Homo sapiens: one gene and its partners. The protein of the gene in region 1 purifies or fractionates together with the protein of each later gene. This does not show direct contact. Each region holds a gene or a part of one and is shown in the gene's direction. Other genes may lie near its edges.

Region 1 (5,175 bases):
GCTAAATTCATAAAGCAGGCAGGATGTGTGGATGAGTTAGATACTTAGAGTATGAGAAAAAGATGACATAATGAATTTTGACCTAAGCAGCTGGATGGAGTAGCACTTTAGTGAGGTGGAGAGGAAACAGTGATGGGGTTTAATTGGATATCCAATGGGAGATGTTAAGTAGTTCATTGCATATGAGAGTCTAGAGTTCAGGGAAGAGTTTCAGGAAGGAGACATAGGTTTGAGTATCATTAGCATGTTATTTATTTTTCCGTGAGCCAAGTCACTGCTGTATCACTAGTGCCCAGAATATTGTCTGGCACATTGTATATCCTCAATGGATATGTACTGAATGAGTGAATGGAACCACTTACTTACTAGAGTTGACTGCAAATCTTTGCTTTGGTGGATTTTGAAGTGTAACTCCTTGAAGTTATTTCCTTTCTTTACAAGGTCTCATGGGAGCCTTATTGTGGATCTTATGCACTAAAAAGAGGCTTTAAATGTGAAGGCTCCAATCGCTTATATCATACGGAAAGCAACGTGTGGTGACAAGAAAGAAAGAGGAACAAGTGGAAACCAAAAAATAGCTCATATTTTCAAAAAATGAGAAAAGATCCTTTAGAGGGAGGTGGCTGAAATTCAGGGGTGTGATGTTCTTGGGTTATTATTGTACTGCTCTTAATTTAAGATGAGGCAGAAGCAAGGAAGAATCTTGAAAGGGGAGAATTTTATTTAAATCAATTTATGCCGAGTGTCACCAGCTTGCTTGAGAAACCCCACATCTACAGTAGCTTGCATAATGTGTTCCTGTTTATAAAAGGAAGAAATAGGGAATAGCCTTCATAGGAAAAGGGGAGGGCTGGAATGACTTCAGCCTCAGGCTGTGGGTGCTGTCCATTTTCTTCTCGTGGTGTGTCTGATTCTATATAAGTTTTGTTTGCAATGATGTTGGTGAAGGGAGTGAAACAAGAAAAAGCAGGTACTGCTGTTGAAAGTGGTTGTGTGTGTGTGTGTGTGAGGGAGAGAGAGAGAGATGGAGAATGTGCCAGTGGCGGAGAAAAAGAACCAAATCCCAGAAGGAAGTGTGAGAAAGAGATGCAAGCTGCCCTTCATTTTTACGTGTGGTTACTAGGCCTGACCACATGGGGCTAGGATGGAGCAGTGGGCTTTAGCATCAGACAGAACTGGGTTTGCACTCAGACTTCATTACTTTATTTGTTTGTTTATTTATTTATTTATTTATTTATTTATTTTTTGAGATGGAGTATCCTTCTATCACCAGGCTGGAGTGTAGTGGCACAATCTTAGCTCACTGCAACCTCTGCCTCCCGGGTTCAAGCGATTCTCCTGCCTCAGCCTCCTGAGTAGCTGGGACTACAGGCACGTGCCACCACGCCCAGCTAATTTTTGTATTTTTAGTAGAGACGGGGTTTTACCATGTTGGCCAGGATGGTCTTGATCTCTTTACCTTGTTATCTGCCCGCCTTGGCCTCCCAAAGTGCTGGGATTACAGGCGTGAGCCACCGTGCCCGCTAACTTTCTATTTTTTTTTGAGACAGGGTCTCACTCTGTCAACCAGGCTGGAGTGCAGTGGCGTGAACTCAGCTCACTGCAGCCTTGACCTCCCGGGCTCAAGTGATCTTCCCATCTCAGCCTCCAAAGTAGCTGGGAATACAGGCATGCACCACCATGCCCGGCTAATTTTTAAATTTTTTTGTAGAGGTGGGATCTTGCTATGCTGCCCAGGCTGGTCTTGAACTCATGGGCTCAAGTGATTCTTCCACCTTAGTCCCCAAAGTGGTGGGATTATAGGTGTGAGTCACCATGCCCAGCCCAAGCTTCCTTACTTTCTAGCTGTGTAAACTTGAGCACATTATTTAATTTCCCTGAGCCTGGGTTTCCTCAGTTGTAAGGTGATGATGGTGGTGTGGTGTGGTGGTGGTGATGATGATGATGATAGTAATCATACCCCAGTGTTCTGCAGTCTCCTTCATGCTCCTGGACTTGGAACTATGTTGGTGTAAATATTGATTAAAGGATTACCATACCAGCTGAAGGACTTAAAGATTTTATGTGAAGGGAGAAATGAGAATTTGATGTTCACAGTGCCATTTAGAAGATTATTTCCATGGGGCCCATAATGTTCAAAATTAGACAAAGGGACAATAATAAAATGTCTAGCCTTATGGGCTAGACATTTCAAGGTGCCTCAGAGGAAAACTAACCTCCCTTCTCTGCAATAAGCCAATCTCCTTAGTTCAGTTCTGCAGTGTCGCATAGTTTGTTGGAATTCCATAATGAAAATTTTGGAGTCATGTGTAGTATATAGATGCAGAAGCTTTCCTGTCTGATGCCTTTGTGGCTCCCACAGAATCCACTGCATGGTGTTCTTCTGGAAAGGTCTGTGGTTCTTCCTGTTCCAGGCACATAGTAGGCACACTATACGTATTTATTAGATACATGGTGAATAAATGCTGCTGTGTTTTCTCTGTTGGCTGTGGCTCTCTTGGTTGCTCCTCCCGGCCTGGGCAAGAGATCAGCAGGTAAGTGACAGTGATGAGCTAAGTCTCTGGCAGGTACTCAGCAGCTAATGTTACCCTCTCTCCACCACCCTCATGCCTTGGCTACCATTCTGACATCCCCTAGATCAAGAATCATATACTCAGCTTTCCCTTTAAGCCCCCAGTTACATCGTCAGCAAAGCCAAAGCTCCCTTGCTGTCCTGACCTTTGATTACAGGTAACGCAACAGTGTCTCCTGACTTAGCAACAAAGACCCACACCTGGGTTCCCTGCTTCAGCTCCCACACAGAAGCCTGTGGTCCCGTTAAGTCTTCCTGTTTTCTATACACACTTCTGCTCCACCCACCTCCTGTTCCCTTCAGTTGTTAGAGCTTGATTCTGTATGGGTTGGCAGGGGAGAGAGTAGCATTAATTTTCTTTTCACAAAAGGCAATTGAAAATTCTCTCCTAACGGATGACTGTCTAGCCCCTCAGAACTGAACTTCTTCAGGAGGCAGATAGGCTACATCCTTCCTCCTGTGCCCATTTTACAGATGAGATATCTGAGGCGCAGAGAAAAGAAATGACAGACAAAAGTACCCTTGGAAAAGTGGATGCACAATCTCATTTGTTTCCTGCCAGCTCTGCATAGATGCAAGAGAAGGTAATTCTTCCAGACCGCTGGGGCCTTCTTGAATCACGGATGTCTGCATCCAGAAGCTGATTGTTGAATCACAGGTGTCTGGATTTGGAAGTTGACTGTTCAAACTGGGAGCTTGGTGCTGTTAAGTACTTCTTATGTCAACCCCAGGTGATATGTGTGTGGGCAGGAGCTCTAGGCTCCCAAAACTCACCTAGGTGTGATAGGTGTGATTTACAATTCTGTTTTCATGATCATTTCATGAGAGAAACCTGCAAATGAACACTGCTAAGGAGATGGAACAGAACACGTTAATGGATAAATGAGCTGTCTATCATTACCCCTGAGTGAGCGTGATTTGTTTTAATGAATATTTCATGGGCAGGTTCCTTTTCAGGTCCAGAATATGCTCAAGTCAATGAAGACCTTAATTGAACTGTAGGATCTTACAGTTTCAGAGCTCGAAGGGACCCTAGAAAGCGGGGAATCCAAACTTCTTATTATTCAAGGAAGGAAATAATTAAAAAAATTTTTTTGGTACATGTTCTTGCCCTGTTGCCCAGGCTGGAGTGTAGTGGCACAATCTTGGTCTCACTGCAACCTCTGCCTCTTGGGCCCAAGCAATCCTCTCACCTCAGCCTCCCAAGTAGCTGGAATTATAGGCGTGTCCCACCATACCTGGCTAATTTTTTAATTTTTTGTAGAGACGAGGTCTCATTATATTGCCCAGGCTGGATTTCCCAAGCAATCCTCCAGGCTTGGCCTCCCAAAGTGCTGGGATTACAGGCATGAACCACTGCATCCACCTCGGAAATAGCTTATTTGGGTGGATAAAAGAGCTGTCCGTCATTACTCACATTACAAATCACGCTCACTCAGGAGTAATGATGGACAGCTCATTTATCCATTAACGTGTTCTGTTCCTTCTTCTTAGCAGTGTTCATTTGCATGTTTCTCTCATGAAATGACCATGAAAACAGAATTGTAATTTATAAGAAAAGAGGTTTAATTGGCTCCTGGATTCATACAGTAAGTTAATGATGGAGAGAGGGTCAAAGCTCAGGTCGGGGCTGTAGCAATGTTAAGTTTGTATGAGAGGCCAAGAGAGAACAGGAAAACGGGGTGTGGGTCCCCTACACTGTCATGCTTAGAAACCCTCTGAAATGGCACAACTAGTTCTCCCAAGCAGGTGAGAGCCTGGTTAGGCCCCTCAACAGCCTCCTCTGATTGCTCAATCCTCTGGGATTTTCCCTGCCTGGCTCCCAGAGCCCAGGCCCAGTGAGGGTGGCTCCTGTGTTGCCTGCCATCCCTGCTCTATCGCACGCAGAATCTGACCGTGGCCTCTCGCCTGATCTGGGGTGCAGCAGATGGCGCCGAGGAATGGAGCCCAGCTGGCACGTGGGAGGCTCTGCGGGAGAGGAAGAGGCACCGTGGGGTGGCCTGCCCTAGGCAAAGTGCTGGGCCTGGGAGATGGGGCTGGAAAGGTCATGGGAATGTCGGGAGCCTCTGCCCTTGACCCTGGAGGGCTCAAGGAATTTAGTTCCACCCCTAGCACTATGACAAGTGACGAACACATCCCACACATGCCAGTGTAAGGGTCTGTGAATTAAATGCAGCCACTTTAATTTTTGTTTTTTAAAGCAAAGCATAAACATGAAGCTTTAAGGAAAGGAAAGCTATAGGGTAGCAATGTAAAGGCAGTAGCTTGAAACTTAAGGCAAAGAAGAGAAACTCAAATGGGACAATGGAGAAGTAGATGAGAAAGGGTATATGAAAACACGGTGGGGTGCTGAGCCAGCTTCTCCTATTTCCCATGATGGATAAGGTCTTTTTTTTGGTGGCGCCGCCCACGTCTGTGGCAGAAAAGCTGTGCTGGGCTCCCACCCTCATATCACAGGACTGGTGGCCGCCTGCTTCTTCGGTGGCTCAGCATGCAGCATCTCGGGGCACTACAGAGGGCTGTCAGAGGCCGGGCTAGTCCTATCAGGTTTCTCAGTTTTACCTGTGTCACTCCCAGGTTTATGTCTTGTTACTTTCAGCCCA
Region 2 (4,337 bases), on another chromosome or scaffold:
TGAAGCTGCCTCTGTGCACATTACACCCATGAACTTAGACCAGTTGCCTTTATGTATGATCGTATTTATACTGAGAAGTTACTGTGTTTTTTGACTTTCTTTTCTATTTGCTACATATTAGTTCGGTCTAAACGTTTGGTCTTCTGGTCTCCATAGTTCTACATTGGTTAAATGCAACTCACTTCTGGGAGTAGTGGTGACATTCAACTAGTAGGCTTTTTAATAAACTACAGAAGTTCATTACTCTCATGTAAGGAAGGAAAACTAATGTAACTTTCGTTAAGTATGAAAAGCGTTGGATATCCTTATAGTTCTTTAGAGTTAAGGGTGAGATGGGTTTAGAAAGTGGCCAGGCACAAGTTATTTTAAAATAAAAAATCTTTGGCTGTTTGTTCCAATATATTAATAGTTTTCCCTTTTTTACAGCAACGCAGTGTGCATATTTTATCTGGTTCTCCGAGCTCTGGACACACTGGAAGATGACATGACCATCAGTGTGGAAAAGAAGGTCCCGCTGTTACACAACTTTCACTCTTTCCTTTACCAACCAGACTGGCGGTTCATGGAGAGCAAGGAGAAGGATCGCCAGGTGCTGGAGGACTTCCCAACGGTGAGTGGGGTTACGCATCTTGTCTACGGACTGTTGTGTTCATAATTGCTAACGTGGTTGTCCGGTAGCCTCCATACATGTGGAGAAAGGTTAAATAAGCATTCTGAGGGCAGCATAATGTGAGGGTTAAAAACTCCGGTAGCCAAGACTCTGAAGCCAGGCTGCCTGGGTTGGAATCTCAAATCTCCCACTTACTAAACTGTTGGTTACTTACAAAGACTCTCTGTGCCTCAGTTTCTTCATCTGTAAAATAGGGGTAATAATAACACCTACCTCATGGTATTCTGAGGATTCAAAGAATTAACGTAGGTAATGCTCTTAGAATGTTAGCTACTGCTGTTATTATCAGTATTGGAAGTCCAGTGTTTCTTCCTGTGGGAAGACGCAGTCAAATTTTAGTGTTGTGAAAGATTCTCAGGCTAGCTCACAAAAGCCTGCCGACTGTATGATGCAGCCTACCTGTAACACTGCTGGCCTCTTGACTACCCGGAGCCTGGTAGCATGGGACTGCTGCTCACGATGGGCAGCAGCCTGGCATGGGGGCGGTGTCTGTTGGCAGCTAGGGCGAGCCTCTGCCACTTCACCTGTGATCCTGGGCAAGTTCCTTATCTGCTTTGTGTCTCCGTCTCCTCGTTTGTAAAGTTAGAGCTGAGAGGATTAATTTCGCACATATAAAGTACTTAGTGCCTGGTACAGGGTAAGTATTCTGTAAGTATTAGCTATTTGGTCTATTTTGTTGGAGTAAAGTGGGTTATAGTTAAAATCCTAAGATTTTTAAAGTCCCTCAAGTTCATGTGGACATCTGCCTAGGTCCTACTATCCTAGAATTCGCATGTCTTATCACACAAATAACTGATTCTTCCATATCTTATAAATAAAGGTTTGATTTAGCAAAGTCACATGTTGTGTAATAGCTCGAAGAAGCCCTTTTTGTCCACAGTTGCCAGAGCTTTTGGAGAACAGTCCTTATGTTATTGAAACAAACCTAATCTGTAGCTGAGTTGGGAGGGAGCTAAGTGGACAGAGAGTCCTCCACCCAAACAAAAGAATCTTTGATTCTTGGGCATAATGGGAGCAATATTTAAAAAAAAAAAAAAAAAAAAAAAAAGGAATGTTTGGGGAAGACTCTTGCGGTGCAAAGGCTGTTTCAGATTGCTGAGATCAGACCTTAAGTACCAAAGCCCAAATATAGTACAACATAATACAAATGAGAAGAAAATAGCTGAAGAATAATTCGAGTTTATACAGTACAATTCAAGAGAAGAAAGAAAATTTATGACGACTAGCTGGGTGAGAATTAGAACTGTAACCCTGGGAAGGTCCTGGTGATTTGACTCTCACAGGACACCTGATGACCAGAGGATGGGTTTCCTTTGATGGGAAATCTGTGGCGATTCATTGATGGGCCTCTGAATTCTGCTGAAGCAGAGGAAGTAGTAATACCCCATTTATAATGGAAGTGCATTCTCACTTAAAAACAACTAATATTATTCTAGCTGGACCTAGCCTCTAGAAACAGCCAAATTACATTTGACTTGAGTGGATTCATAATAATTAAAAAATTTCTGGGGCATGGGATAAATGTGTTAGGTATTGCTAAGTCAAGGCAGCCCTATCCCCTCAGCAGAAGTGAGGGAATATGAAAGTGTGTGAATGCTAACATAATTTTGGGGAATATCGCCGTCAGATTTCCAGATGATATTCCAACATGTTTGTGAAACTTCAGTGTCTTCCTGTGTTCATACAGTGTTCCAGTGGAAAAATAATGCTTAGTTCTGGAAGGTTTCAGATGTGAACACTGAACTCATCGTTTTCTTTTTTGGGTAGTAGAGTTAGAGATTCCATCCTCTTGAAAGCACAGTTGCCCCGGGAAGAGTAAAAGGGAGCAGAAGGCGTAAGCCAGGCACGGCTGTTTTCACTGTTGTTCACCTTTTGTATCCTTACGAATATGAAGATGTACTAAGTTGTGTGTTTTGCGTGCATATATAATTTTAAGCTACTTGAGTTGTAGGTCCCTCCAGTCTGTGATTCAGTTTGAGATGGGACTGTATGGGAATTAACAGTGCCTTGTCTTCTTAAGGAGTGATTTGTGTATGTGCTGATATAGCTCAGTATGTCTTTGAAACCAGTTGTCTGGGGCTAGGCCTGCAATCAGCTTTTGGCTAAGAGGTCCCAGGATGGAACAAGTAGTGTGAAAGAGGACTGATACCTTGGCCTCACACACAGTACTGCTCTTAGACTGGGGCAAGTGAAACTCCTCACTTCAGAGTGCCCCATTCTAGGCCCCCTCACTCCCAAAGGGGTGAGGGATCACTGGGGCCATGGGAATGTGCTTGTTCAGCTCTCGTGGGCTCTCCTTCTGTACCACGTTCTGGACATCTGGAGTTCCTTGCCCCAAATCCCTGAGCCCACGTCTGCGTCCGCACAGTCTATTTCCTAAGGTCAGTCCATCTCCTCCAGGTGGGAACGTGCCACCATTGACTGTGCCCTTGGGCCTGAGTGATGGCCAAGGGCTGTGTTGGGGAGTGTTGTGGATGGATCCTGGCACCGAGGGCTGGGATATCCTCTCAAATGAATGTGAGGTGCCTCCCAGTGCTGGAGAGAGCGGGATTCAGGAAGCAGTGGAAGGGAAGAGCCTGGGATATGGGGATCAGCTGTCTGTGCCCTGCTGCATTCTGGAATAAAACTCTGAGGGACTAAGAATTCTAAATTCAAACCTGAATCAACCAGGTTGTTACAAAGATAAGTTTGTCAGTGCAGGAGGATACAATATATTTTACTTAAGTTACTAGCTCGATTGATCATTTTTAAATTTTTAGCTACATATAGTATGTGGGCCTCCATTTGTCCTCTTATCCCAGGCCTTGCAGAATTTAGGAATAAGCCTCAATACAGTGTTCTAACCCAGTGACTTCCGCCTCGATGTACAGTAGATTGAACCTGATCCTTTATACTTTAGTGATCATTAGTTGATACCAGTTCAAGTCAGGCTTTCTAGAAATCTCATTGTATGTTAGGGGTTCGATTAGAGTACAGTCATGCATCACTTAATGAATGGCCACAGGATACATTCTGAGAAACGCATTGATAGATGATTTCATCATTCTGTGAACATCATAGAGTGTACTTACACATACCAAGATGGCATAGCTACTACAGACGTAGGCTCTGTGGTACAGGCCATTGCTCCAAGGCTGCACATCTCTACAGGATGGTACTGTACTGAATACTGTAGGCAATTGGAGCACAGTGGTAAGTATTTGTGTATTTAAACATAGAAAAGGTATAGTAAAAACAGGGTGTTACAGTCTTAAGGGCCCACCATTGTATTTCCAGTCTCCGTTGACTGAAACATCATTATACAGTACATGAGCACGTATCTTTCTCACCTGGTACTAGTGGAAAGCTAGAAGGCTTAGAAGTCTACCTGTAAACATAGCTTAAGTAATAATACAGCCTTATTTTTAAATGATAATAGCAATAATAGTGTTCACTTATTGAGCATTTTACTATGAGTTACTTACTAAATATATTTCATCGTTAATTTACTCTTTGTGTTATTTGATCTATAACATCGTTTAACAGGGAAATTACCTAGTACATAATGTACTGTTATCTACATTTTATCTAGATGAGGAAACTGAGGCACAGAGAAATTAAGTACTTTGCCTAGGATTACCCGTGAAGTTAAGTGACAGAATCAATGAATCTGGAAGGTCTGGCTTCA
Region 3 (4,337 bases), on another chromosome or scaffold:
GTTAAGTATATTCACATTGTTGTTCAACAGATCTCTAGAACTTTTTCATCTTGCAAAACTGAAACTCTGTACCCATTGAACAACTGCCCATTCCCGCCCCAACCCAGCTGTCCTTGACAACCACTATTCTACTTTCTGTTTCTAGGAATTTGACCACTTTATACTTTGTGTCAGTGAGTCATATAGTATTTGTATTTTTGTGGTTGGCTTATTTCACTTATAATGTCTATAATGTTTATATTATCTTTACCTTTTCTTTTTTTTTTGAGACGGAGTCCTGCTCTGTCACCTAGGCTAGAGTGTAGTGGTGTGATCTTGGCTCACTGCAACCTCTGCCTCCGAGGTTCAAGTGATTCTCTTGCCTCAGCCTCCCAAGCAGCTGGGACTACAGGCGCGTGCACCATGCCTGGCTAATTTTTCCATTTTTAGTAGAGATGGTTTTTTTTTTTTTTAACCATGTTGGCCCGCTGGTCTCGAACTCCTGACCTCAGGTGATCTGCCCGCCTTGGCCTCTGAAAGTGCTGGGATTACAGGTGTGAGCCACTGCGCCTGGCCTATATTATCTCTAAATGTAAAGATATATTCTTTACGTTTAAAGAGGTATGGTCTTTACATCTGTCAATGGACATTTTGGTTGCTTTTACCTCTTGACTATTGTGAAACATGCTATAATTAACTTGAGTGTACAGATACCTCTTGGAGATCCTGTTTTTAATTATTTTGGATATATGCCCAGAAGTGGGGATTGCTAGATCATATGGTAGTCTATTTTTAATTTTTTGAAGAGCTTTCATACTGTTTTCCATTGTGGCTCATCATTTTACAATCCCACAAACGGTGTACAAGGTTTTCAGTTTCTCCACGCCCTCATCAACACTTGTTATTTTCTGTTTCTTTGATATGGGCTATCCTTATGAGTGTGAGGTGATATGTCATTGTGGTTTTGGTTTGCATTTTTCTAATGATTAAGGAAGTCAAGCATCTTTTCACATGCATGTTGGCCATTTAAAAATCTTTGGAGAAATGTCTGTTCAAGTCCTTTTTCCATTTTTAATTGAGTTTTGTTGTTGTTGGCCTGTAGGAGTTCTTTATGGATTCCAGATATTAATCCCTTGTGAGATATAGAATTTTCAATATATTGTCTCCTATTCTGTAGCTGGCCTTTTTACACTATTGATCATGTCCTTTGATATATATTGTTTTTAGTTTCGTTAAGGCCCATTTGTCTACTTTTGCTTTTGTTTGCCTCTGCTTTTGGTGTTATATTCAAGAAATCATTGCTAAATCCAGTGTCATGAAGCTTTTCCCTATGTTTTCTTCTAGGAGTTTTATATTGGGTCTTACATTTAGGTCTTTAACAGATTTTGAGTTAATTTTTTTTATATGGTATAAGATAGGGGTTCAGCTTCATTATTTTCCATATGGATATCTAGTTTTTCCATTACCATTTGTTGAAGAGACTGTCATTTCCCCATTGCGTGGTCTTGGCATCCCTATTGAAGATCATTTGACCATATAGATGAGGATTTATTTCTGGGCTTTCTGTTGTTCATTAGTCTATATATCTGTATTTATGCCAATACCACACTGTTTTGATTACTATTGCTTTGTAATATATTTTAAATTTAGTACATATAAGACTTCCATCCTTGTTCTTTTTCAAGATTGTTTTGGATGTTTGGGGATTTCTTGAGATTCCATATGAATTTTGGGATGTTTTTTCTATTTTTGCAAAAAATGCCATTGGGATTGCATTGAATCTGTACATTGTTTTGTAGAATAGACATTTGAACAATATTAAGTCTTCTAATTTATGAACACGGGATGTCTTTTTATTGTACTCTTTAATTTCTTTCAGCAGTGTTTTGTTTTTAGCGTATAAGTCTTTTACCTACTTGCTTAAGTTTATTCCTAAGTATTTTATTCTTTTGATGCAATTGTTAATGGGATTGTGTTCTTAATTTCCTTTTCAGATTGTTCATTCTTAGGATATAGAAATATAACTGATTTTTGTGTGTTGTGTATCCTACAACTTTGCTGAATTTATTAGTTCTAACAGCTTTTTTTTTTGGTGTAGAATCTTTAGGGTTTCTACATATAAGATATGTCATCTGTGAATAGAGATAATTTTACTTCTTCCTTTCCAGTTTGGATGCCTTTATTTCTTTTTCTTGCCTCATTGCTCTGGCTAGAACTTCCTGTGCTATGTTGAGTAGAAGTGATGAGTGGACATCTTTGTCTTATTCCTGATCTTAGAAGAAAAACTTCCAGTATTTCAAAATTGGGTATGATGTTAGCTGTGGGCTCATCATAAATGACCTTTATTATGCTGTGATACTTTTCCTTTTGTTGCCCTCCCTCCGTTTTTTTTTTTGCCTATATATCCCCAACCTTTTCACAGAACAGTGCTCACATTCTTTATACCAAACTTGTTTTTACCCTGAGAAGATCTTACCCTGTAGTCTTCTTGAGTGGAAGCTGCCTTGTCCTTTCTTTCTTCTTCTTCTTTTTTTTTTCCCCCATCAGGTCATTTTATTATTATGGTTTTTACAAATTTTGTTTTATTTTAATAGTTTTTGGGGAACAGGTGGTGGTTTGTGGTTACATAGATAAGTTCTTTAGTGGTGATTTCTGAGATATTGGTGCACCCGTTACCCGAGCAGCGTACACTGTACCCAGTGTGTAGTCTTTTATTCCTCACCCCACTCCCACCTTTCCCCCTGAGTCCCCAAAGTCCCTTATATCATTCTCATGCCTTTGTGCCCTCATAGCTTAGCTCTCACTTATAAATGAGAATATATGATATTTGGCTTTCCATTCCTGAGTTACTTCGCTTAGAGTAATGGTCTCCAACTCCATCCAGGTTGCTGCAAGTGCCATTCTTTCTTTTTTTTTTTTTTTTTTTGAGCCGGAGTCTCGCTCTGTCGCCCAGGCTGGAGTGCAGTGGCACGATCTCGGCTCACTGCAAGCTCCGCCTCCCGGCTTCATGCCATTCTGCCTCAGCCTCCCAAGTAGCTGGGACTACAGGTGCCTGCCACCGCACCCAGCTAATTTTTTGTATTTTTAGTAGAGACGGGGTTTCATCGTGTTAGCCAGGATGGTCTCGATCTCCTGACCTCGTGATCCGCCCGCCTCGGCCTCCCAACATGCTGGGATTACAGGCGTGAGCCACCGCGCCCGGCCCATTATTTCAGTTTATTTTATGGCTGAGTAGTATTCCATGGTGTATATATACCACATTTTCTTTAGCCACTTGTTGGTTGATGGGCATTTAGGTTGGTTCCATATTTCTGCAATTGCAAATTTTGCTGCTATAAACATGCATATGCAAGTGTCTTTTTCATATAATGACTTATTTTCCTTTGGGTAGATACCCAGTAGTGGGATTGCTGGATTTAATGGTAGTTCCGCTTTTAGTTATTTAAGGAATCTCCATACTGTTTTCCATAGTGGTTGTATTAATTTACATTCCCACCAGCAGCGTAAGTGTTCCCTTTTCACCATATCCATGCCAACATCTGTTATTTTTTAATTTTTTAATTGTGGCCATTCTTGCAGGAGTAAGGTGGTATCTCATTATTTTTTTTAATTTGCATTTCCCTGATGATTAGTGATATTGAGATTTTTTTCATATACTTCTTGGCCATCTGTATATCTTTTGAGAATTGTCTATTCATGTCCTTAGGCCACTTTTTGATGGAATTATTTTTTTTTTCTTGCTGATTTGTTTGAGTTCCTCTGTGGTGGAGTGCCAGTAGGGAACAAGGACCTCTTCTCCAAGGCCCTATGTGATCACAGAGGCTGCCTGCCTATTGGGGTTTAGGTGCAACTTTCCCTACTGTGTCCAGTGCTGCAATTTTGTCTCTGCTGTGAGAAACTACCCACAAGCAGAAGGATCTGGAACTCAAGGCCTGCTCTTCAGATTCTTTTGTCCCATGAGGCGATATCTTGATGTGGTGCTCTCCTGCTCCTCCTAGGGATGGGGCTTCCTGAGAACCAAAGTGCAGTGATTGTTACTGGTCTTCTGGATCTAGCCATCCAGCAGGGATAGCGGGCTCTAGGCTGGTGCTGGGGAATGTCTGAAAAGAGTCCTGTGATGTAATCCATATTCAGGTCTCTCAGCCATGGGTACCAGCACCTGCTGTGGTGGAGGTGGCAGGGGAATGATGTAGACTCTGTGAGGATCCTTGGCTATAGATAGGTTTAGTGTGCTGGCTTTCTTGAATGCTGGTTATGCAAGCGGTGAAGTTGTCACATGGATAGACTCAGGACCTTTGGTTAGCCAGGATGTTGCAGGCAGTGGTATTAGCTGTTGTTTTCTCCTTCTCGGGAGCAGT
Region 4 (4,337 bases), on another chromosome or scaffold:
TAGTTAATAAACAAGCTGTGTGACATTAAGCTATGTTTCTCTCTAGCTTTCTGGAGATAGTACTGAATTCCCAAAACACAGCGTGATTTATTTTTTGTGATAGTGTGCATCAGCAAAAGGGCATATATTAGATGCTTGGAAAATGCTTTGCTATAGATTTATGTCTTTTTACTATTTGTCTTCATATATAATTATTGGGGGCAACTTTAGTTTTTTCTATTTCTCTTTTCAGAAAGAATAACAATTTTTTCGCCTTCTTATCTATATGTTTCATTGTGGACTATCAGTACTGTTCTTCATTTAAAATGCAAATGTTCTAATAATCTACAATCATAACCTTATGGTAGAACTGATACAGACATTGTAATCTCTAAGCCTCTGAAAATAGTGTTCTGCATTTTTATTGTAATCTCTAAGCCTCTGAAAATAGTGTTCTGCATTTTTATTCTAGAAGAGAGCTACTGCTCCTCATCAATGAGAGAGTGGGATTAAAAGGAACATGAGTAAGGATTATATTTGCAGAGCCTATCTATTTATTCAACAGTATTGTTGAATAATAACATTTCTTAAGTATCATCTTCCCTCAATATATGTGGGGGATTGGTTCCAGAATCGCCCTCCCCCCGCCACTGCATATTCCAAAATTCATGCATACTGAAGTCCCACAGTTGCTTCTAGGACATCAGCCATTCCGGTACTTGGGTTTTGTGGCGGGCAAATACTATATTTTTTATCTGTGGTTGGTTCAAAAAAAATTCACACATAAGTGGACCCCCCACAGTTCAAACTCATGTTCAAGGTTTAGCTGTATCTATTTTGTAGCAGAATCTAGGGAAACTTAGAAAGAGAATGACCTTTTCTATGAAACTTAATTTTGTTTCAGACAATAACATTCTGATAAGAGCTGAGTTTTACTCTTTTGTTAGCACTGTCAGTTTTCTCAACCATAGAATGAGAATGATAAAATAACCATCTCGGCTGGGCACGGTAGCTCACTCCTCTAATCCCAGCACTTTGGGAGGCCGAGGTGGGCGGATCACCTGAGGTTGAGAGTTCGAGACCAGCCTGACCAACAGGAAGAAACCCTGTCGCTACTAAAAATACAAAATTAGCCGGGTGTGGTGGTGCACGCCTGTAATCCCAGGTACTCGGGAGGCTGAGGCAGGAGAATCACTTGAACCCAGGAGGTGGAGGTTGCGGTGAGCCGAGATCGCGCCATTGCACTCCGGCCTGGGCAACAAGAGCGAAACTCCATCTCAGAAACAAACAAAACAAAAAACAAAATAACCATCTCATAAAGTTCTTGTGAAGAGTAAATAAGATAGTACATTTAAAGTACTTAACCCAGCACCTGGCATACAACAAACACTTCGTTATTTTAGATTTACTGTGAGACTTCGTCCAAAGTTACCTCTTAGGTATTTATTTTCCTCTGTTCCTCCCTTCTTATTTTTCTCCAAATTGTCATCAAAGATAAATTTCTAAAACAAAAATCTGATTGTATAACTACCTCTTTGATACCATCTTTTCAGCTTTGAAAACCTTTAGTGGTTTCCTGTTGTCTGAAGAGGAATGCCTCAAATACATGGATGGTATTCAGCATCTTCCCACGTGGCCCTAGCCTTCCTTCCCAAACCATCTTCTGCCTTGACCACCCACTGGGTTGCAGCCCAAGTAGGCCACACAGTTTTATTTTGCTACCTTGGCTTGTTGTCTTCCTTCTGTCTAGAATTCCTGCTGTGGGCCTCACCTCCTCATCACCCCACAACCTGAAGAAACAACTGTCTATGGGAAACTCAAAGATTTCTCTTCTTTCTAGGCAGAATTTTTGGTTCCTGTTCATTCATCTCTTTTTAGCATTTATTATGATATCAAAGGTAATTCTATATGTCTTGCTCTCTTACTAGCTCATGAGTTCCTTCAGAGCAGAGGCCATAGTTTATTCATCATTGTGATAACATTGATGAGTGCCACTAGAACTCAGTAGGCACTCTGTAAAAATTTGTTGAAGTAATGTATTAATATTTGGTTTAATTTTATTTTGATTTCAGTGTGTTTTTATTCTAGGTCCTTGGCCTTGTCCAAAACATGAGTGTTTTCCAGTGTCCAAAATGTAAACACAAAACTCATATTTTTGGTGCTGATGGTGCAAGGAAACTAGCACAGACCCTTGGTCTTGAAGTTCTAGGTAAGACTGTGGGATGTTCTTTTGTAGAAGAAGTGGCAGAAGAGAAAGTGGGGATGAGGCTTGATGATTAAGAGTGTCTCAGAGGCCGGGCACGGAGTCTCACACCTGTAATCCCAGCACTTTGGGAGGTCGAGGTGGACAGATCACGAGGTCAGGAGATCGAGACCATCCTGGCTAACATGGTGAGACCCTGTCTCTACTAAAAATACAAAAAATTATCCAGGCGTGGTGGCGGGCGCCTGCAGTCCCAGCTACTCAGGAGGCTGAGGCAGGAGAATGGCATGAACCCTGGAGGCGGAGCTTGCAGTGAGCTGAGATAGCACCACTGCACTCCAGCCTGGGTGACAGAGTGAGACTCCATCAAAAAAAAAACAAAAAACAAAAAACAGTGTCTCTGAAAATGATGAGTTGCTTTTGGCTTTGTGTTTTAAATTAATATAGCACAGTTCTATGTGTTAACCTTTCTTTGGCTTTTTTGAATAGGTTTGTTCTGTCAACTATGATAATTTCTATTTTAAATAAAAACTGTCTATAACTTAAATTTGAGAATAGAGTTTTGTAGTCCAAGTACTGTAATTTGAAGCCATATTTTAAATGATACTCATCAGTGTGTTTGCTAAGTTGGGTGTACATCTCTCAGTAGAAACAGGTACATTAAAATGTCTGTTCCGTATGTTGTAAAAACCTCTAAAAGTGTTCGTTCTTAGTGCATATGTAAAAATGCCTTCCTGATTAATTCTTTGTTAGTCTTTCTGCTTTAGAATGGCAGTATTTACTGTTTTCTGTAATATTTAATGTGTTTGATATGTCTTTAAAATATGGCACCTGAAATTTACATTGTACGCACTGTTCATGGCACTGAACTGAAGAGTTCATTAGTGCTGTGAGGAAAACTAAAATCATGTGTTAAATAAGCAAAACACAGGTTTTGGATAAAACATGATGTTCCAAAAATCCACAGGCAACTTAACAGACTTTTTAGAAAACATGTTTTGATATTCTAATTGTGAATGGGTTTCTGTTCTTGCCAAAGGCAGGTGTTAGATGCTGAATAGGGAAGGCATAAAGTGAATTATTAGACTTAGGTAGTTAAAAATTAAGATCCCTAGAGATTAAGGAATTTCAAAACATTCTCTGTTATAATTAAGTTTCTAAAAGTTGATGTTAAATATATTATTGTTATGCATTTGCACTATAGCAGCCACTACAATACCAGGTGAATACTAATGATATATTTTGATACATTGCTATAATTATAGCCACTAATTATATTCTGCAACTGTTTTTCATTTAACCCAGAAAGTTCAATTTTCCAAATCTGCATAATAACAGATTGACATTCGCTTATATAATAAAGTAAATGTGTAATTATAATGGCATTATTGAATTATACTGACAACATTGTAATTTCCTAACTTACAAATGAGCTGAACAATTTCCTAAGTCAGTTATTTAGAATTTGAAACATTTCATTGAGAAACAATGGTATGTATGGAAGTTACATTTTAACCAATGGCTCACAGATGTACAATTACCCTAAAAATGTATCAAAAACACTGACTACTGATCACAAAAATTTGATGGTGCCCTAGACTGCTATGTCTGACAGTGTTAGGGGAAAAATCATTTAGAATTCCTCGTTAGGGCACGTCCCCTCCTTTTAATGTAGTCATGGGTCCCATGGTGTCTCCCATGAAGTGGAGCAGGGCTTCAATTATGAAGAGGTTGGAATTGGGAATGAGGAACTGAAATCAGGGAAAAAGCTTTCACAGCTCTGGCCTCTTGGCCAGTTGAACCTCCTGGGAACCCTTATTTGTCCTTTACTGACTCCCTGGCAGACTCTTAATTCAGTGGGTCGTGTTTTAAATGATTATTTGGTACGATAGCTCTTGAGAACCTTATCTGTATTTACCTACAGGGACAGTTTATGCATAGTAGTTAAGGTCTCAGACCATCTCACAGAAAACCCTTTAACCTATTATATGTCTGAAATGTTTCCTCATTTCTTTCAGACTTAGCACCTCAAAAATACTTCTCAGGCTCAGACTGCTCCTCACTCACTTTTACTTTTTAAAAATCCCTGTCTAGATACAACAATTAGCCCATTACCATTCTTACTACGCACCTATTTTTAACAAGATTTTTCCCC

What was found.
Region 2: the proteins of SV2B (region 1) and FDFT1 purify together in Homo sapiens (affinity purification with mass spectrometry; one large-scale study listed by BioGRID and IntAct). This does not show direct contact.
Region 3: the proteins of SV2B (region 1) and AGK purify together in Homo sapiens (affinity purification with mass spectrometry; one large-scale study listed by BioGRID and IntAct). This does not show direct contact.
Region 4: the proteins of SV2B (region 1) and NUBPL purify together in Homo sapiens (affinity purification with mass spectrometry; one large-scale study listed by BioGRID and IntAct). This does not show direct contact.

The regions. Positions count from the first base shown.
Region 1 is NC_000015.10:91,106,085-91,111,259, forward strand, and holds part of SV2B (synaptic vesicle glycoprotein 2B), read left to right. Parts: intron 1-5,175.
Region 2 is NC_000008.11:11,809,241-11,813,577, forward strand, and holds part of FDFT1 (squalene synthase), read left to right. Parts: exon of another isoform or gene 1-250; intron 251-426; coding exon 427-610; intron 611-4,337. UniProt on the Homo sapiens protein: Catalyzes the condensation of 2 farnesyl pyrophosphate (FPP) moieties to form squalene. Proceeds in two distinct steps.
Region 3 is NC_000007.14:141,557,910-141,562,246, forward strand, and holds part of AGK (acylglycerol kinase, mitochondrial isoform 1 precursor), read left to right. Parts: intron 1-4,337. UniProt on the Homo sapiens protein: Lipid kinase that can phosphorylate both monoacylglycerol and diacylglycerol to form lysophosphatidic acid (LPA) and phosphatidic acid (PA), respectively. Does not phosphorylate sphingosine. Phosphorylates ceramide.
Region 4 is NC_000014.9:31,844,404-31,848,740, forward strand, and holds part of NUBPL (iron-sulfur cluster transfer protein NUBPL isoform 1 precursor), read left to right. Parts: intron 1-2,067; coding exon 2,068-2,188; intron 2,189-4,337.